Linked DNA regions of Homo sapiens: region 1 is linked to region 2. Evidence: fine-mapped expression QTL. A gene starts in region 2. The other region holds a variant in brackets. All regions are shown on one strand. Distances are from middle to middle. Region 1 overlaps XPNPEP1 (X-prolyl aminopeptidase 1). Region 2 holds the start of XPNPEP1 (X-prolyl aminopeptidase 1).

What was found.
Region 1: its variant is fine-mapped to the expression of XPNPEP1 in whole blood (INTERVAL, PIP 0.95).

What each region holds. Positions count from the first base shown.
Region 1 is chr10:109,870,958-109,884,337 of GRCh38, forward strand. It overlaps XPNPEP1 (X-prolyl aminopeptidase 1), which reads right to left. Exons shown (of 21, transcript NM_020383.4): 9 at 13,110-13,191; 10 at 11,475-11,685; 11 at 9,885-9,974; 12 at 9,231-9,281; 13 at 7,043-7,101; 14 at 6,833-6,910; 15 at 4,571-4,642; 16 at 2,410-2,470; 17 at 835-904. Among named protein-coding and RNA genes, the nearest start is that of XPNPEP1, 46 kb to the right of the region's middle. The variant C/T (reference allele first, on the strand shown) is at 9,015.
Region 2 is chr10:109,915,189-109,931,651 of GRCh38, forward strand. It overlaps XPNPEP1 (X-prolyl aminopeptidase 1), which reads right to left and starts at 8,323. Exons shown (of 21, transcript NM_020383.4): 1 at 8,214-8,323. The coding sequence starts at 8,245. RefSeq lists a silencer at 7,999-8,538.

The DNA.
Region 1 (13,380 bases), 46 kb before region 2:
AATTTATTATGTGTGGCTCCAGAACGTGAAACAGAAACCAATAGGTAAGTTACTGGAGGGTTCAGATTTCAGCACAGCACAAGGAAGAACTTTCTAACAATCAGAGCTCCTGAGAAACCATCAGAGCTCAGTCTGAAGCTAGGCGATCATCCATTCAGGATGCTGGTGAGCGGGGATAGACACCTACAGCACACAGAGGCCGTATCAGACATGGACGTTCCCTTGCCAGCTCTGCGACCCTAAGGTTTCAGAATTACAAAGATGAGACTCTAACCAGACTGCAAGCAGACAGGCAGGCATGACAGATGAGGAAACTGAGGCCTAGGGAGATGAGTACATGTCTAATCTACCCAAAAGCAAGGCAGCCCAGGTCTTGTCAATGCCCAGTCCAATGCTCCACCCACCAGGCCTCAAGCAAAGTAGTACATAGCTGAAGTCAGGGTCCCAGTAAAATAAATCCTAAGAATCCCGAAAGGAAGCACTGGCCCAGTACTAAAGGGCAGACAGGAGGCTGCACCAACTTCCACTCAGGCCCTGTGACCTTCATATCTGGTTTGTCCTCTCCTGGGAGCCATCCACATGTGTCATCCAATACCATAAGTGGTCAGGAGAATGGTGCACAGGGGGTACTGGGCCCAATCCTAACCCGGCTCCCTGAGGCCTCTGGGCTCAGTCAGTGGGTTATGGAGACTCACCCCATGAGCACCTGGCTGGGCCTGAAGTGGGATGGGGACCTCACAGTGAAGGAACGACATGTTCTTTCACTCAAACATAGACATATTTGATTCTCAAACAAGAAAAAGAGCCTGCCATGTGACAGAATGCACCACCTACCTTTGGTTCCAGTCGGGAAAACGGCTGCACTCACAGCTATGTGGCCCTTGAGGACATATGTGAAGCATTCCTGCAAAGAAAACCCAGGGGCATGTTGCAGAATGGGGACAGATGTCTAATCCTGTAGTTTTCTGGTAGTTCAGAAAATCCTGCCTGCTAAAGTTTTTAGCAATATCATAGAGAAAATGTAAGTAAAAAGAAAAAAATCTGGTGGAAAAAAAGCCTGGCCACGGGACCAATTTCCCAGAAAATCTTGAAATTCAATTTAGTAGAAGAGCACTGTCAGAGAGATGACCCCACATGACTTTATAATGAACACTCTGACATACTCCATCATGTGAGCCTTAGAAAGAATGGAAAAGTAATAAAAAGTACTGATGACCCTAGCTAACATTACTGAGCTATCCTCTGTGCCACGCACTATTCTAAGCACTGTATGTTTGATCCCACACTTCACGATGGAGGCACTACTGTTATCCTCGCTTCACAGAGAGATTCAGTAGCATGCCCAGATCACACAGTGCCTAAGTGGCAGCATCTGGCCTTGGAGCCAGGCACTCTTGCTTCAACAGCTGTGCTCCCTACCACCATCCTATCTTCAGGGGTTATCCCCACTGTCCGGACAAGAGAAGTGCTACTCAGAAGTGTAGCAGCTTGCCAGTAAGGTGCAGAGTCAGGACTAAAACTCCATGCTCCTCAGCCTGGTTGAGCTCTTTGAAAAGCACAAAAAGAGTCACACCAAAAGAATCCTAGACGCAAGGTCCAAATTCTTCTAAGGCACTGGTGAATACAAATGGAAAAGGCAAGGGACCAAGACAATGAAACCTGCCCCACTACATTGCATAAAACCCTTTTCCTTGGATAATCTTCCTGAAGGAGCTCTCTTGGACAAACAGATTCACTTAGGTGCTCAATCAGCATTTGCTGAGCAGTGACTATGATCCAGGAACTTGCTGGGCTCATGGGAATTCACAGCCACCCGGGAAGGTGGGTCCTTTTATCCTCATTTTTATGGATGGTGACTGCTTTGTTCAACGTCACAGAGCTAGTAAATGGCACAGAAGCTCTGAAGCCAGGTCTCCAGACCCCTAGTACACATCTCTCTGCCTCACAGCTCTCTTTCCCCTTTCCATGCCAATCATACCAGAAACTTAATAGAGTCTGTCATTTCAGAAAGTTTCCAGAGAGTTAAGCCTGTAAATAAGAATCTCAAAAAAAGAAGGGGGTGGCCTTCAAAATCAAATCTAGGCACTGCTTATAAAGCATGTATTTCACTCTCTCATCCCCAGCCTCAAAGGCATTTCCTGACTCAAGAGAAGGCCAAAGCTATTATATTTAAACTTACACCTGAGCTGCCCTAACCTTAGCAGAATGCTTTAAAAATTTCTCCAAATGTCTTATTCCAATAATTAGTTAAATGAACCTCGTAAAGCAGATAAGCCTGACTCCACAGCAAGGAGCAATTTTACTACCCCACATGTAATTTTTACTTCTTTATACAATCCCTTTTCATAAAAGCAATGCTCTTCTTAAGAAAGCAGAGAGGACCTCTTGAGTTTTTTACCTCCACCTTACCTTCTCGTAGGCTGTAGGGGTCCCAAAATGCATTGTCCGCGTCACATCTGTGGTGCCATCCCTTTCCAAAAAAAGGACAAATTGGTTTCCCGTCAAAATAAGCTTTAAGTCAAATATGACACAGGCAAGCATGTGGACAAGTGAGAAGCCCCATACAATGCTGGTGGGCATGTAAAATAGCACAGCCATCTTTGCAAATAGTTCGCAGTTCCTTAAAAGGTTAAATATAGTCACCATATGACCCAGTAATTCCACTCCTAGTTATATATCCAAGAGAACTGAAAACATACATCCACACAAAAACTTGTACATGAAGGTTCACAGCCACATTATTCATAATAGCCAGAAGATGGAAACAGCTGAAATGTCCATCAACTGATGAATGGATAAACAAAATGGGGGATTATCCACACAGTGCAATACCATTCAGTAATTAAAAAGAAATGGAATACTGATACATGCTGCAACATGGATGAACCTGGAAGACATTGTGCTAAATGACAGAAGCCAGACACAGAAAGCCATACATAATACAATTCTATTTCTATGAAGGGTCCAAAATAGGCAAATCCATAGATACAGAAAGGAGAGTAGTGGTTCTCCAGGGTAGTGGAAAAGGGGGTAGTGACCGCTATTGGGTATGAGGTTTCTTTTTGGGGTAATGAAAATGTTCTAAAATTGATTGTGCTGATGGCTGCAAAACTCTGTGAATATATAAAAAAAATTAATTGTATATTTTAAGTGGGTGAATTACATGGTACATAAATTTTACCCCAATGAAGTTATTTTAAAAAATGAAACAAAGTGTGAATGCAGGGATGGCTAAATAAACTGGGAGTGACGTCAGCCCCTGACACACGCATTCTTGGTCTACAGCATAAGGGCTGTTTCACGAGAGACACTATCACTGGGGTTATGAACAAGACAGAAGAAGGCAAAGAAAACAGGAGCCCATCTCTAGCAAAAGAGGGCCAAAACCCAACTTCTCCTGTTAGAACAGCAGGGGGTTTCCTGGACAGAGACCCTAAAAATATCCAAGTACATATCTTAACACACACTAGACTATATCCCTGACATAGAAAGGATAACTTCTAGAATCCTGCTAAAAATTTAGAAGTGAAGAAAAGTTTACACCATTATCAAGCAATCCTTAGCTCTAGGCTGATATTATTAACACCCCTGTGTCCCAAGGCCAGGCATGGTTGCCACGTAATTGGCTGAGCTCATTCAATAATTAGGTCCTCCCTTAGCCATAGTCCCAACTTCAGTGGGGAATGGAGCAGCACTAAAAGGTCTTGCTCGGCTGGGCACAGTGGCTCACGCCTGTAATCCCAGCACTTTGGGAGGCCGAGACCGGCGGATCACGAGGTCAGGAGATCGAGACCATCCTGGCTAACATGGTGAAACCCCGTCTCCACTAAAAATACAAAAAATTAGCCGGGCGTGGTGGCGGGCACCTGTAGTCCCAGCTACTTGGGAGGCTGAGGCAGGAGAATGGCTGCAACCCAGGAGGCAGAGCTTGCAGTGAGCCGAGATCACGCCACTGCACTCCTGCCTGGGCTACAGAGTGAGACTCTGTCTCAAAAAAAAGGCCTTGCTCGTGCCCTCTTAATGCAGACAGGGTCTATTCTTACTCCTTCTTTTGGGTTCCGTATCAAGACCCAACCAAATCTTGGGTTCTTCTCTGAGAAACTTTGTTCCAGAGATGATAGCCGTGAAAGCAGCAAAACATGGAGAAAGAAATTCAGAAATGTGGGGGCAGCCCTCATTTCTCATTTATTCATTCAAAATTAATCCCTTACTTCATAAGGCCCTGGGGCAGCTGAGAGTACAGGGAACCGGCAGGCGGTTCATGGGCTGGGGTGGAAAACTTTCAACGGTTCCAAAAGCTTGCTTTACTTCACAGTTGTTTACTTATATTTTTAAAACTTCCAGCCAAGGACTGTAACATTTCTATCAAACAGTCTTTTGTGAGAACAGAGTCACAACTGGGCTATTTCAAATAGGGGTGAAAAAAATGACAAGACACAGGAACGATTCCATTAGTGGCCAGCACAGAGGGCGATGACCAGCTGAGTGCTCTCAGCTGGAGCTCAGCTGTCCACCTTCTCCACTGCCTCGAATCCATAGTCAAGTTCCACAGCAGTCCTGGTTTACTTACTTGTATTGAGCACCCGAGTCAATAAGGTACACCTCATCCAGGGACAAGGTCCTATTCGTCTCAGGGACTGGCCTAACAAAGTTAATTAAAAATTAATTATTCCACAAATGTAAACACTTAGTGAATCTGGGAGGAGGACACACAAGAGCTCTTTGTACTATTCTTGCAACTTACATAAGCCTGAAATTATATCAAAATAGAAAGTTATGCAATAATGAATTATTTCAACTAATATTAAACTTCTACTTTTCAAAGATCCAATCAACCTATCTCCCCAGCTGAGATAAAGAGCTCAACAAAGGAAAAGTAACACATTTCTTTATGTCTACCTCTGTTTGTGTCTGAAACAAAATAGGTGTTCAAGAGATAATTCTAAAAGCTAAAAAAATGAGAACGATTAGATGCAACAGGACCTAGCTAGAGTCCTGGGAACTGGGACAGGAGCAGCCTGGAGTCACTGCAGCCTTGCTTGTCTCTGGGAGCCCCAGGCCCCTGCCTCAGCCTCCAGGCCCCTCCTTCAGCCCTGACCCCAGCAGGTACCTCCCCACTCGCTCCCCAGACTGCTAGACAGGCAGGAGTGGATGTCTCAACTTGGGAGAAAAACTAAAGGAATTTTGCTGGGAAAAGGAATGGATCACGATATTCTTCTGCTTCAAACAAACATGAGGTATTTTCAAAAAGTGATCTCTTTCCCCACACCGTTTTCAAAACAATATCACTGCACTGGGAAACACCCAAAGGGATGAGAGCACTCCAAGTCTCTGCCCTGCAGCTGAAGTGAGGTTGTCCTCCATTTCCAGGTACCACCCCCTCTTCAGCAATAAGGGCACCAGTCCACACACAAGCTGAACAACTAAAAAAGACAACCAGTACCTCCAGAACCCCGCCTCTAAACAGGCTTCCAACCACCCACAATGAAGAAATGCCAACGCAGAGGCAAATTTCTTCCACTGGCATGAAACTGTTTAATGTTTTAATTATACGGAAAATTCTAGGATAGTATCCAGCCAGGAAATTCATCCTGAGTTAAACAAAAACTGAAGTCCCTCTGATATTTTTATGCTGGAACAGAAGCATTAAGTGAGGAAACTGTACTGTCCCATCTGTGACTGTCTCCCACACACAGCTTCAAAATCTGCCCCAAGACTAAAAGCTCTAAAAACAATTATTAAAAGGGGGAAAAAAGTGTGTGCCCAAGCACAGTGTTCTTTTGTTGGCTGTGCATGTAACAGATGGGGATGCACAGAACTCAAAATACCCAGTGCAAAGCAAAGCGGTTTGAACCAGGCAGAGCTGAGGCTGAAGCCCAATGGCCACACCTAATGACATTTCCCCCCATCTCCACAGGAAGATCTGTCAGTCCTAGACATATCAGTGCCCCTCTGTCTCACAAGGAAGGGAGGCTCGGCCCTGTGGGTCCATGGGTTCTTGTAGACCACGTGGTAAAAAAACCACATACTGGGATGCCAGGCTTCAGGCTCAGGGGGACAGGAAGAGAGGGTACTGATTATCTCTCCACCCAAAACAGGTTGCCTCACAACCTACTACTAAGTTTTTTTTTGGTATGGAACTGATGGAGCTCACAAGATGTATGGACTAGTACAAAACAGCTGCTGTTACCAAGAAAGAAAACTACTCAAAAATTCCAGTCATGGGCCAAGCACAGTGGCTCACACCTGTAATTCCAGCACTTTAGGAGGCTGAGGCAGGAGGATTGCTTGAGTCCAGAAATTCGAGACAAGCCTGGGCAACACATCAAGATCCTCATCTCTACAAAAAAATCTAAAAATTAGCCAGGAGTGGTAGCACATGCCTATAGTCCCAGCTACTCAGGAGGCTGAGGCAGGAGGATTGCTTGAGTCTAGGAGTTCAAAGTTGCAGTGAGTTGTGATGGCACCACTGCGCTCCAGCCTGGGCAGCAGAGCAAGACCTTGTCTCCAAAAAAAAAAAAACTTAGTCATCAAGATGCAAGGGCTATGCATACAGTTCCTGCAGCTTCAAAAAGGAAAGAGGGACACCCATCTGACTACCCTGCAGAGAATGCCAGTGCCATACTGAGCCTAAGAAGAGGCTCCCAAAAGGCAGAGGCTTGGGGATTGGGAGAAAATAAAATCTTAGAAGTCTTATTTCCCTTCATTTTACAGTCTCAACAGACAGATGAAGGTGGGCACAGAGGCCTCTGGTAAAATAATGTCTCTCCCCTGCTCAGGCTCCTGTGCAGAAGCAGCAAGGCCAGGCAGCATGCTCCTCCGCATGCCTTACGCGTAGTGAATGATGGCGCCGTTGGGTCCCGTACTGGAAATTGTTGGGAAGCTCAGGTCCACAAAGTCTGCCTGTTGCCTGTAACAGAAAGACAGAAAGCAGAGTGGCTTAAAGGTTTTTACTGTGCTAAGATTCAGGGCCCTTCCAGCCTCATTCAACTAGCAAGAAAATCAGCACGAGGCTCCTGGGTCCCCCCAAATGGATCCTTACCTGCGAAACTCCTCAGCTTTGTCAGCAGCTGAGATCTCTGTCACACCACCTTTGGGAACCTATGAGAAAATTGCTTATAAATCATCTGGTGAGATAAATTCATGTGTGCCTCTTACAAATTAGAGGAGGTACATTAAAAGCTCACTTTTTCCTCAATTGCTTCATCCCAACTGACCAATCTACAGGACACATCTTTAGCAAGGGAGAACTCCCAAAGGCTCTCACCAAAGCTATCTAAAATCCAATAGTTTCTATTCATTTAATTTTTCACTCAACTATTGTGCTTCAGTATTTTATCCTAAAACCTCCCAAAACAACATATCTAAGTTTAAAAATTCAAAAGCATCCCCTCCTAAGAAATCATCGTAAGAAAATCATTCTAGAGAAATAAAAAAGATAAATGCGGAGAGATTATTGCAGGATTACTGATAACAGCAAAAAATTAAAAACAACCCAAACATTTAAAAATAGGAGGACTGGGTTAGTAAATCAGAAGAGCCACTAGATGCAGTTTTCATTTGGATCCTTTTTTAAGGCCTCAATGTACATGGAAAATGTTCACACTATGATTCTAAGAGAATAAAATAAAACACAAAATCATATCTAAGCCAGGTGTGATGGCTCACACCTATAATCCTAGCACTTTGGGAGGCCAAGATAGGTGGATCGCTTGAGCCCAGGAGTTTCAGATCAGCCTGGGCAACATGGCAAAACCTTATCTCTACAAAAAAATCAGAAAAAATCAGGTGGGCTGTAGTCCCAACTAATCGGGAGGCTGAGGTGGGAGGATCACCTGAGCTTGGGGAGGCTGAGGCTGCAGTGAGCTGTGATCACACCACTACTCTCCAGCCTGTGCAACAGATGAGACCCCATCTCAAAATAAGAAAAAAAAAAAGAAAAAAAATTTATCTGCACACTAAGAGACATGTAAAAATAATTTATATTTTTAAAAATAATTTACGGCCAGGCACGGTGGCTCACGCCTGTAATCCCAGCACTTTGGGAGGCCGAGGCGGGCGGATCACAAGGTCAGGAGATCGAGACCATCCTGGCTAACACAGTGAAACCCCGTCTCTACTAAAAATACAAAAAATTAGCCAAGCATGGTGGCGGGCGCCTGTAGTCCCAGCTAGTCGGGAGGCTGAGGCAGGAGAATGGCGTGAACCCAGGAGACGGAGCTTGCAGTGAGCCGAGATCGCTCCACTGCACTCCAGCCTGGGCGATGGAGCAAGGCTCTGTCTCAAAAATAAAAAAAAATAATAAAAATGTAATAATAATAATTTACATAAAGTCCAGGCATGGTGGCTCATGCCTGTAATCCCAGCACTTTGGGAGGCCGAGGTGGGTGGATCACAAGGTCAGGAGTTCAAGACCAGCCTGGCCAAGATGGTGAAACCCCATCTCTACTACAACTACGAAAATTAGCCAGGCGCAGTGGCAGGCGCCTATAATCCCAGCTACTTGGGAGGCTAAGGCAGGAGAATCTCTTGAACCTGGGCAGCAGAGGTTGCAGTGAGCCGAGATCACACCACTGCACTCCAGCCTGGGTGACAGAGTGAGACTCCGTCTCAAAAAATAAAATAAAATAAAATAATAATAATAATTTACATAGATGAACAATCACCAGAAGGAAACATGAGGGAAAAAGTTACACTAGTGGGAATAAAGACAATATTTTCTTTTCCCAATTAAAGAGTTGTTTATACAATACTTAAAGGGAACATGATATTGTTTAATAACACCACAGAGAAACCACCCTCTTGTCAACTAGAGCAAGAAATTAATGGCCAAGAGTCAATTTAATATAAAAAGGCTCAAGGCTTAAACTGAAGTTCAAAATGTACACAAAGATCTTTTTCTCCTAATACAATCAGCTTGCCTATAATAATATTATAAGACTCATTTTTCCTTATAATGAAATTCCACTTAGTTATGATTCCCTAACCCAAAAAGCATCCACTCTATTATGGAA[C/T]TTTTCTTCATTCTTGTTACTATTTTCATAATTAAGGAATTTTGAAATCTACACACACCAAATTTCCAGAGAGAATTATTAAAATAGAGCCCAAAAATTTGATGAAGATCTCAGATCTCATGGTCAGCAGAGCATGGGAGATGCTAGAGTTAGAATCACATATAGGTAGGTCTGAATAATGTATATCCACATATTAAACAAAGACTAAGAACCAACCTCTTTCTCCAGCCAGTTAAAGAGTTCACAGAGAGCAACAGCATCTTTAATCTGTGCAAACAATGGAGACATTTTTTAAGTTATCACTGAAAATCACGTGACCAGATTCAGAGCCTAGCCCTAATGCAATACTGAGAAGGCTGTACCTGCAGGGCCACACATCATCAGCAACCAGAGCTTTACATGTGGACATTTCTGGGAAGCTGGTGTGTGCAGCAACTCCCATTATCAGGGAAAGGCTCCTCTGCTATTCAGTAGTTCAGGTACAATCAGGAAGGGCCCCACCTCAGAGCACAGGGAGCTCCTCCAAAAGGTTAACTTAAAGGTTAAGAACCCTACAGGGGCCAGGAAAAAACAGGCCACTATCAAAAGCCACCTCTGGGCCCAAAATCTTTCTTCATCAGCATCACGTCATCACCATCATCTACACTGTGAACATCAATATCTCCTTTTGTATTGTGTATTATACTTTGTAAAGATCTAATCCATCAAGTATTTTATTTCATTCCCTCAATAACTCCTCCTGGAAGGCCAGGAGGCTGAGGCTCAGAGAGATTCTAACCTTGTGCCAGGCTCAATGCCACAGAGGAGGTGAAGGAGCCGGGCCTTCTGACCACCTCACATCCCATCTTCTGCACCAGCTCCTCTACTCACGTGAGCCCGCCTCATGCCTTCTGACTCAGCTGAATTCTTCACAGCTTTGGCGATGCAGATGGGGGTGTAAGGCATACAGCAGCGGTGGTCCTAGAGGCAAAGGGCAGTAGGGTGGGAAATCAAACCGGCTCCACCCACCCAAGACCAAGGCAACAACCTTTTTGCTCAGCAAAACTTACTTTAGACAAATCATTTGAAGAGCTCCCACTGGCGACCCATATAGCTATCCCCTGGGGCCCCAACGACCTGTCCCTTTTGATTGATGACCCTGAGCTTAAGCTCAACCAAAAAGAGTAAGTACATCAAACAAGGTGTCTCTCTTCCATCCCTCACTCCCTTAGCTCTTTGAGACTGCTGGCTGCCTGCCGTCAGCAAGACATTGCTTTCCAAGCCACTGTGGTTGTGGTTAGAGTTCACTAACACTGAAAGCTTGACCGAAATCACCCTTCTCTTGCTGTACAAAGGGGGCTTTTTCTCCCTGTCTAGCCATGCACATGACCTGATGAGTGAGGTCTCCTGCTCCCTCCCTTCCCGCCCAGTGGTCCTATCTCAGCTACTGATAATAATCTGATCTTGAAGGGCTGGAGAAGACCCTTTCCAATTTGAGAACAAGTTAGAATCCAGCAGAGGGGCCTCAGCACACCTGGCACTTGCACAAAGCTTCTAAAATTGCTTTTGTGATCTTATCTCCTTTTCTCTTTCTCTCCAGAGAGAGAGGAGAGAGAGAGAGGAGGAGTCACACTGTGTGTGATGATGGCAGGGGTACAATGGCAAGCCAGATCTAGAGAGCCAGGCCTGGATTCTTCCCAGGATGCCCCACTGCTCAGTGGAGAAGAAAGGACATCACTGGGCTTGCCAAAGGCCACTTGGCAGCCAGAGGCCCAGGGGAGGACAGTAGAAAAGCCTACCTCTAAAGAGGCCTGGATTCCAGTCCCATCCCAGACCCTAATGAAAATGAGGCAACAAGTGTCAGCTGCTTAGCACTGCCCAGCAAGGGCTCAGTAAAGGGCAAGGCTATCACTATCACTTGAATTTGACAAATCCCCAAATCCCCAACTCCCCAATCCTCTCTGAGCCTCAAGTGTCCTTAGCTATAAAATGTGGTGCGGCAGAAGGAGGGGGTAGAGAAGCATTTCCCAAGCTTCAAGCATTCTTATACCACCTGCACAGCTTTTACCCTAGCTTCTTAACTGCTGTACCCTTATTCACTTAGTACTTTACTTTAGACCATCTTTAAATCAGCTTTATTAAATTCAACTTTATTTTAAATAATTATATCATGAACTCATGCTAGTTATGTTTTTTCTATTATATGCTAAATGCTGTTAAAACAGATATATTTAAGCAAACCTAAATAATAATGTGTACCACCTAAAATAATCTCTCATGCCACACTCTGGAAAACACAAGACTCAACAAGCAATAAGGGCCCTCAGGCTCTTGCTATGGCTCCAGCTTTAAGGCCTCATCCATGGAGACCACAGTTCTGATCCAACAGGCAGCCTCAGAAATCTGCCTGTGCTCCAAAGACAATACCAGAACTGGGAAGGGGGTGGCAGAGTTTAGATGGGCCAAAGTGGGGTCACCAACCTTGGGGATGGTCTCGCTCACAGCATAGCTGGCCTTGTCACTGACCCACACCTTCTCCCTTGGGGAGAGGTCAGCACACAGGGCCTTGAGCTCGCTCAGGATGGACTTGTAGGGATGCACCTGGATCCTGTATTCGGCTTCCAGACCCAAGTCAAGAAGCAGGTGCTCCTTCACACTGGGGGCGTCTATGCGGTCACCATCAATGAAGAGCCTGCAGATGGAGGAGAGGTGGGTGGCAGAAAAAGGAGGGAACATGAGTGAGAGGTGGCAACACAGACACACATACACATCAGGCTCTGTTTCCTGGCAACCAAAACCAAGCCCCTTTTCTCTCCTCCCCACTCCTTTCCCAAATCCTGCCCTCCAAGGTGCATTCCCTGCCCCCATCCACCCAATCTGCCAAGCCAGAAATCTGGGCAGTGTCCTCCTTCACTGATGACCCTCTTCCCGTCCTTCATTAAGACCTTGGGACCCACAGCCTAAATCTCCATCTAATCTGTCCAGCTCATCTACAGCCTCGCCCAGTCACCACTCAGGTTCAGGTCCCACCATCTCTCACTTGGGTTAGTGCCACAGCCTCTAAGTCTTTCCCCATCTACCGATGTTTCAGTCATAATATTCTTTACAACTTGTACATCTAACATGTGGTTCCCTCTGAAAAATTCGTTCAATAGCTTCCCACTATTCTTGTTCAGAAAAAGAACCCAAGCTCCTGAATGTGGCCCACAAGGCCTCTCTTTTCTGTGGCCCCTGCTCACATTCTGGCCTCACTATGTTCTGACCTCACTGAACCACTTCAGGTCCTCCACATGCACTGTGCTCTCTACTGTCCAGAGTCTCTGAAAATGCTGTTCCCTCTGCTTGGATCATGGTTCCCCGCCCCTCCTCACCCTGCCATTCACCTAACTCACCCACATTTATCCTTACTCTCTGCTTCAAAATATTACTTTCCCCAAGAGTCTGCTCTGATCTCCAAGTCTAGGTCAGGCCCCTCTCGTAACACCTGTATCTGTCCCACAAGCAGACTGGTGCCCACTTATGTGCCCAAATACTTTAGAAAGAGGACATGCTCATCTCCCCAACTCCAGCCAAGGACCCCGTCCTGTTTCAGTCACCCTAGCACCTAACAGAGACCCTTAGCACATCACCAGCACTTAATAAATGTGTTGTCTTAATGCAAAAAGCTATTGAAATAGAACAGTAATGAAAAGAAGGCCACACGAAATGCTTTGAAAAAATAAACTGACAATTCAACAAAGCGTAGTTGGAGGGGTTTTCCCATATTATTTTTGACCTTCAAAATGACTGGGTTTATTTGCATTGTGGACCCAGAATTGTATAATTGAGCATATATACCCCTTAACACTGGCTGCTAGAAAACTTGACATCAAATGGGTGGCCCGAACTATAGACACTTTCATGCGTTTCAAACCATTTTGGGGGCTCAAAGAGAGGCAGGATATAAATAAACACCTACTGCTAAGGAAAACAAGAAGGGAAAATGTTAAAAGGGCAAGAAAAAAGAAGCACATCAGTGAAATATCAGGCAGTGATGGGTGGGCCAGGACCAGAAAGGGCACACTAGGGCTCTGAGGAGCTCTGGAAGGGAGTTCCAGATGCAGGGCAAACACTCACATGATCGTCTCTAGTCCTATGATTGCGTAGGAGAAAAATACTGGATTGTGCTCCACATCTGATCCTCGGAGATTAAATAGCCCTAGAAAAGAAATCAAAATCCCTGTCACCTGTCTGACTTAAGATGTTAAGGGGTCGCTTGTAGCGGGAGGGAAGAGCTTCAGCTTGGAGTCCAGCTGCTGCGCAAGGATTCAGTGGAATCGCACAGAAAGGCTGGAAGCCTGACTCCCGTCTGGTTCCACCTCTGAGCTGCAATTGCTCATGTCCACCA
Region 2 (16,463 bases):
GTTCTCTAACATGAGTCAGAAGAACTTTCACCCCCATTATCAGTGGCAGAATAAATAAAAGTTTGATGTAAAACTTGCAGGTGTAAAACATCCCCATGGCAGGTTAACCTTCTCAGTTGCAGCTTCTAGTTCATAAATTCTCACACCTCCTATTTAACTAGACTAAGAAGACTTATTTTCAATGTTTTTTCCTTACACAAGTTCTATTTGGTTCTTTTTCACATCTGCCCGTTCTTTCTTTATGGTGTCCTATTCTTGCACTCTGGTTTCTATGCCTTCTCTTTGTGCCTTCATTACTGTAGGCCCTTATTTTATAATTTCTCCCATACTTTCAAATAGATCTTGGGAGACTAACCCTCATGTTTGCTAGGTCTGCTGCCTCTCCCTCTTGGTGGTTCATTCCTTCTGCGTTTTGTGATCTTTTATTAAGAGCTTATCTTCAATAGAGGCTATTTATCTATGAGAATGTGATGGGTCCTGGTTTGTACAAGCAGTTCTGTTATTGTTTGCTTCTAAGACTTTCACATTAATTTATTAGCTAGAAGATTTACACACAAACTTCTTGTTCCCATATGGGGATAGTCTAATGCCCTGGACACCAGGCATGAAGGTCTATATCTGCATCTGGTAACTTTCCCAGGCTCAGGTTACTAGCATACCACTCAGGCGTTAGGTTCCCTCTACATTTTTGGCACTTGAGGATTTCTCTTTCTTTCAAGTTCATTCAGTCAACAAATATTTATTGAAAAATCTTCCATAATCCAGGCCCTATTCTGGACACAACAGTGAACAAAACAGACAAGATCTCTGACTTTAACAAATTAAGATGGGGCAAGGCAGGGGGATGGGCAGAAGACAGGGAAGAGAAGGCAACAGACACAAAACAAGTACACAATACGTCAAGTAATAAGAACGTGTTTTGTGAAAAAAAGTAAAGCACAGCAAGGGGAAGAAAGCATCAAGGAGGTAAGGGGAAGGATTATTTCATATGGGGTAGCCAGGGACAGCCTCTATTATAACAGACAACATTTTAACACAGACCTAAAAAGAGTGAGGAAGCAAGCCATGTGAACGGCTAGGGGAACAATGTTCCAGGACAACAGCAAGTGCAAAGGCCATGAGGCAGGAGTATGTCTAGTTTACCTGAGGAAAAGCAAGAAGGTCAGCGCAGTGTGATTGTATCAGGGGATGGGGAGGTAAGTGGTTCAGAGACAACATCATTGAGGCACCAGGGGGCCTACTGTGGGGCCATAGAAAAGGTTTTGAATTTTACTCAGCTATGAACTCAATTAAGTTATAATTTAACCGCATTTTTACATGTTGGTAAAGACAGAGAGGGACACATTAGCTCAGTCTACCACACGGTAAGAACCAGATAACCAGGCAGCTTTACCAATGACTCTAGGCCTGCTTTCATATGGCTGTGACTTTAGTTTTACTGGACAGAATGGGATGTTCTTAACGAGAGTAAACATATTATTCTTTCATAAAAAAGTAAGACACCCCAATATGTCTTCTAAAATATAAATACAAATATCCTCAACAAAATACCAGCAAACGGAATCTAGAACAATATAAAAAGGATCATCATCGCCAAGTGGGTCTTATCCCAGGAATACAAGGTTGGCTCAATATATGAAAAATCAATTATTATAACAGGCCATATCAATAGAATAAAGAACAAAATCTACATGGTCTTCTCAACAAACGCAGAAAAAGCACGACAAAATCCAATGCCCCTTCAAGTTAAAAGTACTCAGCAAACTAGAAGAAAAATTCCTCAACCTGACAAAAGTTATTACAAAACCTACAGCTAACATCATTCTTAATGCTGAAAGACTGAATGCTTTCCCCTATAATCTAGGGAATGTCTACTCTTGGCAGAGTAGACAGGGATGTCTACTCTTGGCATTTCTATTCAACATTGTACCAGAAGTTCTATCTAGGGTAAGTAGGCAAGAAAATGAAACAAAAGGCATCCAGTTTAGAAAAGAAGAAGTAAAACTATCTCTATTTGCAATTGACATAATCTTGAATACAGAAAATCCTAAAGAATCCACAAACAAAATTAGAACTAATAACTGAGTTCATCAAGAATGCAGGATACAAAAATCAATATTTAAAAAATCAATTTGACTTCTATATCCTTGTAATGAGCAATTCAAAAATAAAATTAAGAAAAGTCCATTTACAATATCAAAAACAAAAAATAGTTAGAAATAAATTTAACAAAAGAAGTGCAAAATGTACACCACAAAAACTAAAAAAGACTGCTGAAAGTAACTGAAGAAGACCTAAATAAACAAAAGCTATTCCATGGTCATGGATTGGAAGGTTTACTATTGGTAAGATGGCAGTAATTCCCAAATTGATCTATGGACTCAATGCATTCCCTGCCAAAATTCTAGCTAGCTTGGAGGTTGAAACTGACAAGCAGATTCTAAAATTCATATGGAAATGCAAGGGACCCAGAATAGCCAAAACAATCTTGAAAAAGAACAAAATCTTGAAAAGAACTCTTCCATCCCAATTTCAAACCTAAATACAAGACAGTGTGGTGCTAGCATAAGAATGGACTTACAAATGAGTAAAACAGAATTAACAGTCCAGAAATAAACCCTCACAACTGTCAACTGATTTTTGAGGATGCCAAAACCATTCAATGGGGAAGGAATAGTCTCTTCCACAAATGGTGCTGGGACAAGTGAATATCCACATGCAAAAGAATAAAGTTTCCAACATGGCAAAACTCCGTTTCTACAAAAAATACAAAAATTAGTCAGGCATGGTGGTGTGCACCTGTAGTCTCAGCTACTCTGGAGGCTGAGGTGGGGTGGATCACTTGAGCCCTGGAGGTCAAGGCTGCAGTGAGCCATGATAGCACCACTGCACTCCAGCTTGGGTTACAGAGCAAGACCCTGCCTCAAAAAAAAAAACAAAAAAACAAAAAAGCCCAGGCACAATGACTCACATCTGTAATCCCAGCACTTTGGGAGGCCAAGGCAGGCAGACTGCCTGAGTCCCAGGGTTCGAGACTAGCTTGGGCAACATGGCAAAACCCATCTCTACAAAATTTACAAAAATGAGCCAGGTTTGGTGGTGCACACCTGTGGTCCCAGCTACTTAGGAGGCTGAGGCAGGAGGATCGCTTAAGCCAGAGAGGTTGAGGCAGCAGTGAGCTGTGATCGCCCCACTGCAGTCTAGCCTTGGTGACACAGAGAGACCCTGTCTCAAAAAAAGAAAAATGAAGTTTAACCCACTTCATATCATATTCAAAAATTAACACAAATGGGCCGGGCACGGTGGCTCACGCCTGTAATCCCAGCACTTTGGGAGGCCGAGGTGGGCAGATCACGAGGTCAGGAGATCCAGACCATCCTGGCTAACACGGTGAAACCCTGTCTCTACTAAAAATACAAAAAATTAGCCAGGCATGGTGGCGGGCGCATGTAGTCCCAGCTACTCGGAAGGCTGAGGCAGGAGAATGGTGTGAACCCAGGAGGGGGAGCTTGCAGTGAGCTGAGATCGGGCCACTGCACTCCAGCCTGGGCGACAGAGCAAGAGAAAAGGAAAGAAAGAAAGGAAGACAGGAAGGAAGGAGAGGAAGGAGAGGAAGGAAAGGAAAGAAAGGAAAGAAAGGAAAGGAGGAAGGAAGGAAGGAAGGAAGGAGGGAAGGAAGGAAGGAAGGAAGGAAGGAAGGAAGGAAGGAAGGAAGGAAGGAAGGAAGGAGAGAGAGAAAAAAGAAAAAGAACGAAAAGGAAGGAAAGGAAGGAAAGAAAAGAAAGAAAGAAAATAAAAAAAAATTAACCCAAATGGATCACAGGTATGAACGTAGGCGCTAAACTGTAAAACTCTTATAGCGCAACCATAAGTCTGCCTGACCTTGGATTAGGCAATGACTTCTTTAGACACAAATCAAAAAGCACAGCAACAAAAGAAAAAAGAGATACACTGGACTTCATCAGAATTTAAAATGTTTGTGTTTCAAAGGATACCATCAAGAAAATGGATGACAACCCACAGAATGGGAGAAAACATCTGTAAATCTGTTGAGTCTAGTATCCAGAATATATAAAGAACTATTATAACTCAACAATAAAAAGACATATAACCCAATTTTAAATGGGCTAAGGATCTGAATAGACATTTCTCCAGCAAAAGTACACAAATGACCAAGAAGTACATGAAAAGATGCTCATCATTAGTCATTAGGGAAACACAAATCGAAACCACAATGTGATACCACTTCACACCCACTAGGAAGGTTATAATAAAAAAGATTGACAGTAACAAGTGCGGGTGAGGGTATAGAAAAAATTAGAACCCTCAAACATTCCTGATGAGAATGTAAAATGGTGTAATGGCTTTGGAAAACCATTCCTAGGTACACAATCAAGAAAATTGAAAATATATATCCTTATAAAAAGTTGTACACAAATATTCACAGCTGCATTATTTGTAACAGCCAAACTGTAGGAACAACTCAAATGCCCAACTGATAAATGGATAAATAAAAGTGTCTATCCATATAATGGAATGTTCTTTGCCAATAAAGGGAAATCACGCCAGGCGCGGTAGCTCACGCCTGTAATCCCAGCACTTTGGGAGGCTGAGACGGGCAGATCATGAGGTCAAGAGATAGAGACCATCCTGGCCAACATGGTGAAACCCCATCTCTACTGAAAATACAAAAATTAGCTGGGTGTGGTGGTGCACACCTGTAGTCCCAGCTACTCAGGAGGCTGAGGCAGGAGAATCACTTGAACCCGGGAGGTGGAGGCTGCAGTGAGCCAAGATCGTGCCACTGCACTCCAGCCTGGCAACAGAGCAAGACTCCGTCTCATTTAAAAAAAAAAAAAGAAAGAAAAGAAAGAAATCACACCTATGACATAGGTGAACCTTGAAAACATGCTAAGGGAAAAAGCCTAATACAAAAGACCACATAGTATATGATTCTATTCACATAAAATGTCCAGAATAGGCAAATCGGTAAAGACAGGAAGTAGACATGCAGTGTTGGTGGTTGCCAAGGGCTGAGGTGAGGAGTGACTGATTACAGGTAACAGGATTTCTTTCGGGGATGAAGAAAATGTTCTAAAATGATTGTGATGATAGTTGTACAACTCTGTGACTATACTAATAACTTGAATTGTACATTTTAACAGATGAATTGTATATAAGTGAATTATATCTCAATAAAGCCATTATAAATTTTATAACATCTCTTTCTTGTGGACAGGGATACAAGTCAGATTCTCACCGAATTTCCCATTACTTCATACGTAAGTTTCTAAGATGGTAAGTAACTGATCCCAATGACTGGTTCAGACACATGACTACAGAGGTGGAAGGTTATCATTTTTTTAGAGACAGGGTCTTGCTGTGTCACTCAGGCTGGAGTGCAGTGGCACAATCTTAGCTTATGGCAGCCTCAAACTCCTAAGCTCAAGCAATTCTCCTGCCTCAATCTCCCAAGGACCTAGGACTACAGGTATGTGCCATCACACCAACCTGATTTTTTTTTTTTAATAATTTTCTGAAGAGACAGGATCTCACCACATTGCCCAGTCTGGTCTCAAACTCCTGGCCTCAAGTGATCCTCCCACCTCAGCCTCCCAAAGTGCTGGGACTATAGGTGTGAGCCACCGTGCCTAGCCAAGGTTACCTTAAGGTAATCCTATTCATTCATTTTACAGAATAAAAAAACAAAGATAACTTACCATAGGCCATATAACTCAGTAGCCGCAAAGCCAAGACCAGAAACTAGGTCTGACAGGTGAGCTCAAACTCTCTGTGTGAGCATCAACACCTCCACCTTTCTGTCAGGATCACAGGAGCTACGAAGCAGCTCAATACTACAGCTGCTCTGTTCTTGTCGTATCTTGGTCTCCGCAGAGTCCAAGATCTATCCACCTTTCACTTGTTTGGACAGATAAAATTCTTAAGTTCTCTGTCAAAGCACAATTATCATTAAATATTAAGAACTAGAAGAATATACCTCAGGGACTATCCAACTCAATTCCCTCCTCTAGACCAGGAAACCAAGAAACAAAGATCAAATGACTGGCTCAAGGCCTCACAGCTAACTGCTGACAGAGCTAGAACCAGCGTTCCAGCCTCCCAACATCCAGCTCAGTGCTCCTACCCTTCCCAGAACTTCTTCGACCTACACCTTCTCAACTTCATGATGAGCCACAAAGTGGGTAAGGGGCAAGAAGCATGCAGAGCACTTTCAATCTTTGTATAAGATGGTTATGGTAGCACTAGAAAAGGCCTTCTCCCTCTTTTTCCAAGAAATTCTGGCAGGGTTCTGAATACCTCACCCCCCTGCAACCCCCAGTTCATGGGAATCACACATGTGTAGCGTTCAGCATGGGGCAAAACAAGGAACAAGATGCTCAATCACACCTAGTGGATGAGACAAGGGTAAACTGGAACAAGTTCTAAGGTTGGGAAGTAAGCAATGTTGTCTTTGTCTACCCAGAATCCATCCCTCCTTTTGATGGGAACCTTGGTTTTCCTTTTGAGAATGTACCCTCTCCATTTCAGCCCAAGGGGTTCAAAGCAGTCTTATCCAAACACCTAACAGGCTCTGGGACCCAAAGCAGGTCAATCCCTCCCTCTGGCCATAATGATTGGTTCACAGATGAACATGAGAATTAAGGCAGCCCAGTGAGCATCAGATCAGGGACTTCTGCTCCATTAGGAAGGAGGGCTCAACTTCTCTGCTGGGGCTGTCAGCCTAGAACTGTCATAACCTGCCATAAGGAGAAAGTCTCCCTGAGAATGAAGCGGATACTGAATAAATCAGAGCCAAGAGATGATAAAGAGAAGTCTGAAGCCAATGTTGGTGGTGCTCCCGGATTCAGCCACACTAGAAGCCAGCTCAACCCCATTTTAGGTAAATCAATTTGAGTTCAGTTTCCATTACCGAAACTGAAAGAAGTGCTCACTTTTACAAGGAATGGCACTCAAATTCTACCAGTAGGGGAGGCGCCTGTGGAAAATGGCTTCCCCTCTCTCAGCCTTTCACTGGACTTTCCTTTGAGGTAAAAAAGACTCTACCAGCTGGTGTAGAAAAGACTCTTCTGCTCCTAAAAGGCTGTGAGTCTATAAATCTAGCACAGATCACCTTGGCCCCCTAAAGACCACCTGAGGCCTACAGCCTAACTCATCATTATCCACTTGCCTGACTCCATTTCCAGCACTTCACTTACAGGAAGCTCCTTCCAGATGGAAGTTCTCCACCCCTCCCACATACTTCCACAGGGTGGGTCTGGTTTTCTGCTCACCCTTAACAAGCTGTGGCAACGGCAAATCCAGGTCAAGGTAGGTTTGGGACCCCCCTACTCACAAACACAAGCAGGAGCCATGGTCTGTGTTCAGCAAGAAAGCCTGGCCATGCTGCAAAGTGAGTGCATTCATGTCTCAAGTGGTTAGCAGGTGGGTGACCCCTTGGGGATGGCCAGGGAGTCTGGCCTGTGGCCTCCATGAACTCTGAACACCTCTCTCCGTCTCCCACTTTGTCAGAGGCTCTGATAAGTACATCCTGGTTATGGCAGGGGAATAAACTAAAACATGTTTAACTTGAGGCCGGGAAATTATCTGTCTCACCCTCCTATGCCCAAGGAGAGCCCAGGGCAGGCTACTGGGGGGATTTTCCTGGAGATTATACCAAAATATTCCCTTACACAGCCTCTGAAACCATTTGGGTAGGGAGGGGCCCGCGACCGTCTATCCTTGTGGCGGTGACAGATCAGTAGAGTGAATTGCAGGAGTCAGTATTGTCGAGATTGTAACTTGAGGTTTAGATTCCTGGGTAACAGAAGCGAGGGCAAAGGCTCGCCCACCTCCCCGGACACGAAGAGGGGCCAACTTCCTCCAAGAACGGGGCCTTCCCGCGGGCCAGGAACTGTGACGGCCGCCGCCCCCTCAGGCCGAGTGCAGCAGTTCCGCGGGCATACGCGTCCAGGAACCAGACTCGGGCCGCCCCGTGCCCACCGACCCTCCGGAAACGAACCGGATCTCGCCCGGCCTCATGGACCCCTTCCCCCGGCTCCTGTTCCGGGGCTCCGGCGAGCGCGGCCCTCGCCAGACTGCGGCGGGCCGGGCTCCTCACCCGCGCGTCCCTGCCCGCCGAGGTGCAACACGCGCGGCCGCGCAGCGAGGGCTGCACGCTGCCCGGACGCCGGCTGCCGGCGGAGTGCCCTCACCTTACTCGCGGTGGCTTTCTGGAGGCTGCCATTCGGCGGTGACGTGCCCCAGCCCACGTCAGGGGAGCGCAGACCAGCTGATCACCCGCGGAAGGGCCGGCGCGAAGGAGGCGCGAGAGCCGGCGGGCGGGCGGGCGGGCTAGCGCCGGGTCGGCCACGCCCTCGCCCGTGGCGGGCGCTGGCGCCGCGGCCCCGCCCACACGCAGGCCCCGCCCACACTCCCGGACCTGGGGTTCGCGGCCGCAGCGCCTGCGGCCCAGAGCGGGGCCTGCCCTTCCACACCAGTCCGCATTGCCTCTCCCTGCAGCGAGCGGGGAAAGGACGCAGTGCTGCTGAGTGTCTTCATTTTTGTTCGTTTTTGTCGTCATTCCTCAAAGAGGAAAAAGGGCTTTGCCGAATAAAGGGGCTACTGTCCCAGGGATTTTCCGGCTTAATTTAGGAGGGCTGAGAAGAGAGGGACGTGGCCGGCTCCGGAAGAACCTCGACAGGGTCTTCGAGGCTTTGGAACAGGGTCTCAAGCTTTAGAAATGTCCCCAAAAGTATGTTCCCAGAGAGCTTCAAAATCCAGCTCTCCGCTCCGCTTGGATAGTAAATAGCCCCTTCAAACTTAACGTCCAAACGGAACTCCTGGAACTCCCAATGCACCGAAGCAAAGCAAAAACGTTCTCCACCAGTCTTCTTTGCCATCTCAATCAATGGCTACTCTATTCTTAAGAGGCAAAATTTAGGAATCCTCCCTGCCTCTTCTCTTTCACACCCCACATCTAATCTGCCAGCAAAATCTTGTTGGCCCTGCCTCCAAAATAGACCCCTAATCTGGCCGTGTCACACCACCTCCACCTCCTACCCTCTGATGTGCATCAGAGGGTTGTACCACCCCACCCGTGTGGTTACAGCAGCCCCCCAAATATCCCCTCACCATCCCGCACCTGCACAGTCCAGCCTGAACAAAGCCGCCAGACCAGTCCTTTGAAGCGTGACACCAGGTCACTTCTTTGCTCAGCACTTTCCATTAATTTCTCGTTTCACGCAGCATAAAAGCTCCATTTGATCTACCCCCAGCCACATTTCCTCCTGTTCTCACCTTCCTCACTCTTCTTCAGCTGAAATGGCCTCCTGGCTCTCCTTGAAAAAGCAGGGTACACTCATGTCCCAGGGCTTTTGGACTTGCTCATCCCCCAAATATTGAGGCTCCCTTCCTCATTTTCCTTCAAGTCTTCGTTCAAGTATCACCTACCCTGACCATCCTATTTAAATTTGTAAATCATTCCAATATTCCTAATCCGCCTTACCCTACTTCATTTTTTCCATAGCACTTACCACCTTTTAACAGGATTCTTTTAATGTACTTATGTGTACTGTATTCTTCCCCCTCTCCTGCCACCACCCACGCACACAACAAAACCATCAGTGCAGATTGTTTCTGTTTTGTTTAATGATGAACAATATCTAACATGTCATAAGTTCTCATTATATATTTTCTGCAGAAATGAATGTTTCAGAATGTGCACTCCTCAAAAGCAGGGATGGTGGCTCTCTTGTTCATTGTTATTTCCCTGGTGCTTAGAACAACACCTGGCACTAAATGAAAGTGACCACATTTTTTTAAAGGTGAATGGCACCTCCTCCTGCTTTGACCTTGGTGTAAGGCCTAATATACCTGTATCAGCTAGGTTCTGCTACCTGCAAGAACTCAAAGTCGTTATTGAATAAGCATTTAGGCAAGCCGAATTAGACTGTGTAGTTAAAGCATGAAAAAACTAAAGATGTGCTTCCTGGGAAAGCAGCACACATCTGTTGCATTTCCCCAAATTTATGAAGCCAAAAACAGAGAGATTGTAAATAAAATACTGGTTCCAGCCCACATCTGAAAGCTGGTGGGAAAAATCAAGTTATAAGAGAAAACGAGATAAGAGAGAGAGAGATAAGTGAAACTTAAGGGGGACAGGTATTTAATAATCACATTGCCTAAAAGAAAAGGAGTTGGCTCAGAATTTACGGCATCCAGCTTCAGGGGAGAGAGAGAAATACCTTGCATTCCCTGAGCTGGATTTGAGTTCCTGTTTGCAAGATAAAAAAAGGAACCCTTTCCCCTCTTGAAGTTTTTTTGTTTGTTTGTTTTTTGAGATGGAGTTTTGCTCTTTTTGCCCAGGCTGGAGTACAATGGCACAATCTCAGCTCACTGCAACCTCTGCCTCCCGGCTTCAAGCAATTCTCCTGCCTCAGCCTCCTAAGTAGGTGGGATTACAGGCATGCGCCACCACACCCGGCTAATTTTTTGTATTTAGTAGAGACGGAGTTTCACCATGTTGGTCAGGCTGGTCTTGAACTCCTTGGCCTCGACCTTCCAAAGTGCTGGGATTACAGGCATGACCCACTGTGCCCGGCCTCGCTCTTGAAGTTCTAACAAGAGAACCTCTGGAGAAGTTATAGCACTGAATTACCATGAGAGAATGAGAACACCAGGAGTTATATAGGTTCTTCTCCTGGCTCTACAGTCCTTGCATCCTCAAAGAAGTGGAACAGTCACACTGCCTGACATTCATTGAAGGCTATGTGTCTAACCCACAACAAACCAATGGGTGAAGGACTCTTATCCTCATTTTACTGGTTGAGGAGACTGAAATTTGCAGAGGTTAAGCCCCTTGCCCAAAGTCCCTGAGCTAGTAAGTGGTGGTACTGTAACATACATTCAGACAGCAGGATGGATTCCTAGCCCTGACACTTAATCGCGAAGTTATCTGGAAGGGACCCTAGAGGTGGCCTCATCCAGTCTCCTAGCCCACACAGCAGAAAGAGGGAGACAGCTGGTTTTGGCATTCACACCCAGACCGGGTGGGTCTTAGATGTAGCCAGAAATATTAAATGCGTAGAAATATGTTGGATTGAATTGTGACCTCAAAAATTCATATGTTGAAGCTCTAACCCCTAGTACTTTCGAATGTGATCTTATTTGGCAATAGGATCAGTGCAGATGTAATTAATTAAAATGCAGTCATATTAGAGTAGGAAGGATCCCTAATCCAATATGAAGTGTCTTTATTTAAAACAGAAAAAGAAATCACACTGTGCACACAGGAAGAACACCATGTGAACACGAAAGCAGAGATCAGGACGATGCATCTACAAGCCAACAAACACCAGGACTGCCAACAAACTGCCGAAAGCTAGGACAGAGCCATGGAACAGATTCTCCCTCACAGCCCATGGAGTGAACTAACCCTGTGGGTATCTTGATCTTGGACTTCCAGCCCTCCAGAACAGTGAGACAACAAATTTGTTTTCAAATCACGCAGTTTGTGTTGCTTTGTTACGAAAGCCCTAGGAAACCAATGTAAAACAAGTTCCAAATGTCCGTGTATAGATTGTGGACCTGTGTTTTGGGCCACCCGACATTCATTCATTCTCCTTCTGATAACCATCCTACCAATTCCCTCTGGGGCCCACCTCTCCCTACTTCCCTCCTTTCCCCATTCTCTATGTATGTTATCCAAGTGCAACACTTGGATTCCAAGAGTGTATCATGTAACCCAGGCATAGGCTACAATGATAGGATCAGATATTGCTATGGGAATAGAGTCTTGCTTCCTTCTGCCAGCCAAGATCCTGGATGCATATACTCGAACTGCTGCCTCTATGTGCAACATGTGAATGGCACCAAGGCAGCAGAAGACAGAGCAAATAGAAAGGGGAGAAGCAGACCTCAAAACGTTATTTGAGTGCTGCATCCTGCAACACCTTAAACCAGATGTCCCACTGGACTTTACTTAAGTAACCATCTGTACCATTGAATTTTATGCATGAGTAGATATCATTTTATTAATGTAGACAATCACGAACTAACAAAGGGAAAAAGTAAATTATAAAACAATATAATATCCCTTTTTTTGTTTTTGTTTTTTGTTTTTTGTTTTTTGAGACAGAGTCTCGCTCTGTCACTCAGGCTGGAGTGCAGTGGCACAGTCTCGGCTCACTGCAAGCTCCGCCTCCTGGGTTCACACCAATCTCCTGCCTCAGCCTCCCGAGTAGCTGGGACTACAGGCTCCCGCCACCACACCTGGCTAATTTTTTGTATTTGTAGTAGAGATGGGGTTTCACCGTGTTAGCCAGGATGGTCTCGATCTCCTGACCTTGTGATCTGCCCACCTCGGCCTCCCAAAATGCTGGGATTACAGGCGTGAGCCACTGCGCCTGGCCAATATCCCATTTTTATAACATATCCATAACTATGTATACTGATACGGATATATAGATACAGAGTTTTTTGGGAGGGAGAGACAGGGTCTTGTTCTGTCACCCAGGCTGGAGTGCAGTGGTGTGATCACAGCTCACTGCAGCTTCGACCTCCCAGGCTCAAGCAATCCTCCCACCTTAACCTTCTGAATAGCTGGGACCATAGGCACACACCACCACACCCAGCTAATTTTTTTTCCTTTGGTAGAAATAGGGTCTCCCTATGTTGCCCAGCCTTGGTCTCAAACTCCTGGGCTCAAGCAATCCTCCCGCCTCAGCCTCCCAAAGTGTTAGGATTATAGGCACGAGCCATTACACCCAGAGTAAGTACTTTTTTAGAATAAAAGGAAAGTGATCCACAAAATCTTAGTGCATATCTTGAGGTGGCAGAACTTGGGCTGATTTTAATTTTGCCATTTTTTTGAGATTGTTTTTTATTAACAAGAAACTCAAAGTACTAATAATTTCTCTGGCCCTTACTCCTTGGAAGGCAGAGCCAAGGAACTCGTTTTGTACTCCAAATCCAAGCACTACAAGTAATAGTAGCCCTCTAGTATTCAATTTGATAATTGGTTGATGACCTGACCACTTATTGAAACAGGAGCAACATCTCTTGATAAACTCCCAGATGAGAGGACTAAAAAAAATAGAAATCCCTGTAGGAGATCAAACAAAATTATAGCTTTAGAGGAGAGTTTTAACCTTTTCAAACATTTCAGTTTGTTCTAATAAAATTGATAGTTACAAGAACAGTAATGAGTGAAGCTCTCATAAATCATTATAACATGGCCTTATTTTTTGTAAAGTTAACTAAAAGATAGGCTTGAGGTTGCACCCTAGAAAGGAATGGGAGAAGACAAGCCAACTTTCAGGATTGTAGAGTCTGCCAAAACAATGTACTGTAAATTAAGGGTGGGAGAATGCATTTGGCTCAATTCAGAATCTACTCACCCTTTGTATTCAATGAAAACTGAACTCAGACCTTTTGATATCTGAGTTCCATTTACTCTTGGCAAAGTTCAATTCTCTGGCTCAAATTTTTTAAAAAGCCCTTTAAGAGGCCCAGAGGGTTTCTTGAACATCAAATGGTTCTTGCACAAACAACATATTGATGAGCTAAGTGCAAATGAATTAGAAACATACAGAGTAAGTGTTCTTTGAAACACACAGACCCTCCCACCCTATGAGGGAAAAGACTCAGGGAAGCTCTATGGCAGTCTCTTCCTTTAAGGAGTATTCCTTTTTACCGTAATTTATCCCCTCCTCAAGAAGCCTTTGGGGGACCTTTGCAAAATATGGGAAAGGGAAGAGAGTATATCCAGCTGTTCATGATGTTGACTTCTCACAATCCCTTCCAAGCTATGTCTTCAAAACTGGGCTTTGGAGAGGGGCAGCACAGCCTAGAGGTCAAGGTCAAGAGACAAATTCTGACTCTGTTTCTGCCGCTAAATAAATGTGTGACTATAGAACTGGCAGAGCACCCTTTCCTCTGGTTTCTTAAGGTGTTGGGCTTGACAAATGCCTTCCAGTCTGACTATGTAGTAATCAAATCCCATATGTTTTCTTTGACCCTGAGTATATATTTTTTTCTTTTCTTTTCTTTTCTTTTCTTTTTTTTTTTTTTTGACAGAGTCAGAGACAGAGTCTCACTATGTCGCCCAGGCTGGAGTGCAGTGGCATGATCTCAGCTCACCACAACCTCCACCTCCCAGGTTCAAGGGATCCTCCTGCCTCAGCCTCCCGAGTAGTTGGGACTACAGGAGTGTGCCACCACGCCAAGCTAATTTTTGTATTTTTTAGTAGAGACGGGATTTCGCCATGTTGGCCAGGCTGGTTTTAAACTCCTAATTTCAGGTGATCCACCCACCTCAGCCTTCCAAAGTGCTGGGATTACACTATGCTCAGCACTACATTCTCTTTTTAATAACAGCTTTATTGGAATACAATTCAGTGCCATACACAGAGCCAATTGAAAGTGTGCAATTCAATGGTTTTTACTATATTCATAGAATTGTGCAAGCATCACCACAATTTTAGAACATTTCATCACTCCAAAAAGAAACTCATACCCTAGGGCAGTCACTCCCCATTTCCCCCCGTCCTCTCCACCCTAGGCAACTGCTAATGTACTTTCTGTCTCTATAGATTTGCCTCTCTGGACATTTCATAAAAATGGTATCATTTAATATCTGGTCTTTTGTGACTGACCTCTTTCATTTAGCATAGCATTTTCAAGATGTATCCATGTTGTAGGATGTATCAGTACTTGATTCCTTTTTATTACCAAATATGCCAATTAAAATTCCATCGTACAGAATATTACTTTGTTTATCCATTCATCAGTTGATGGACATTTGGGTTGCTTCCACTTTTGGATATTGTGAAGAATGTTTCTATGACAATTCATGAGCAAGCTTTTGTGTGGACATGTGTTTTCATTTATCTTGAGTATATACCTAGGAGAGAAAATACGGAGTCATATGGTCACTTTTTGTTTAACCCCTTGTGGGAGACTTTTGGACTGTTTTCCAAAGTGGCTACACCATTCCCAGCAGCACTGTTTGGGGGTTGCAACTTCACATCCTCATCCATACTTGTTATCTTTTTTTCAATTCCAGCCATCCTAGTGGATATGAAGTGTTATTTCAAGTAGTATTGTGGTTTCAATTTCCGTTTCCCTGATGCTAACGATGTTGAGCCTCTTTTCATGTGTTTATTTACCATCTATATGTCTTTGTTGGAGAAATGTTTAGTCAGATCCCTTTCCCATTTTAAATTGGGTTATTAGGTTTTTTTGATTATTGAGTTGTAAGCATTCTTTATATATTCTAGATGCAAGTCCCTTATCAATTATATAATATGCAAATACTTTCTCCCAATCTATGGGCTATTCCATTTCTTTTAAAATTCTAATTAGATGGAAACATTCAAAGAGGAAGATTTCACTATTTAAAAATCCGTGACGGGCGCGGTGGCTCACGCCTGTAATCCCAGCACTTTAGGAGGATGAGGCGGACGGATCATCTGAGGTCAGGAGTTCGAGACCAGCCTGAACAACATGAAGAAACCCCATCTCTACTAAAAATACAAAATTAGCCGGGTGTGGTGGCACCTGCCTGTAATCCCAGCTACTCAGGAAAGCTAAGGCAGAAGAATCGCTTGAACCCGGGAGGCGGAGGTTGCAGTGAGTGCAGATCGCGCCATTGCACTCCAGCCTGGGACACAAGAGTGAAACTCCGTCTCAAAATAAAATAAAATAAAATAAAAAATAAAAATAAAAATAAAAATCTGTGTCTTCGGTCTCTTTTGAAAAATCGGAAGGTTGGTTTGGCAATACTAGTCTTTCCTTCTATACAGTAACAAGGAACATGAACAGCGCAGGGACTGGCCCCATGAAATGGGACAGAGAGCCCTCCATTTAACCACTTACACTGTTCTACTTTACCTGCCAGACCACTATTGATGTCCAAATTTGTGACTCCTCCTCCTGGAGAATCTGACAAACATGGCCTGGATTTCAACTTCACTGAAATTGCCCTTGCAATTAAGCTAAGGTAACTACTTCTTGTCAGAATGGTTTCACCTTTCGCACCTAAACATAGAATCCCCCAAACTTAACACCAGCTAGCAAGTCCTCACTCTTCTTGTTTTGCAATTTGGATTTTGCAAGGCATGGGGCAACTCATTGGGGCTTGGCAGAGCCCCCAGAATTCTGGCAGCCCTGTGTGTACTGATGTCATGAGTGTCCCTTGCCATAATGCATCCTCATTACTAACTCAAATCTGCCAAACTCAAACAATTGGAGCTGAAAAACAGAGTAACAGGCTGCCTGAGCTGCAAAACAGTGCATAAAAATACTCAGAAAAACAATTAGTGCCTAGGACCATATCCAAGAATGAAAATCACTATTTATTATTGTTAATCATCCCTTTCCCTGATCACAATTTGCCTGCTAAAAGCAGCCCCTTCTCAAAATACAATGAGTAGTTCTAAAAGATATCTTAGTAATATAACCTA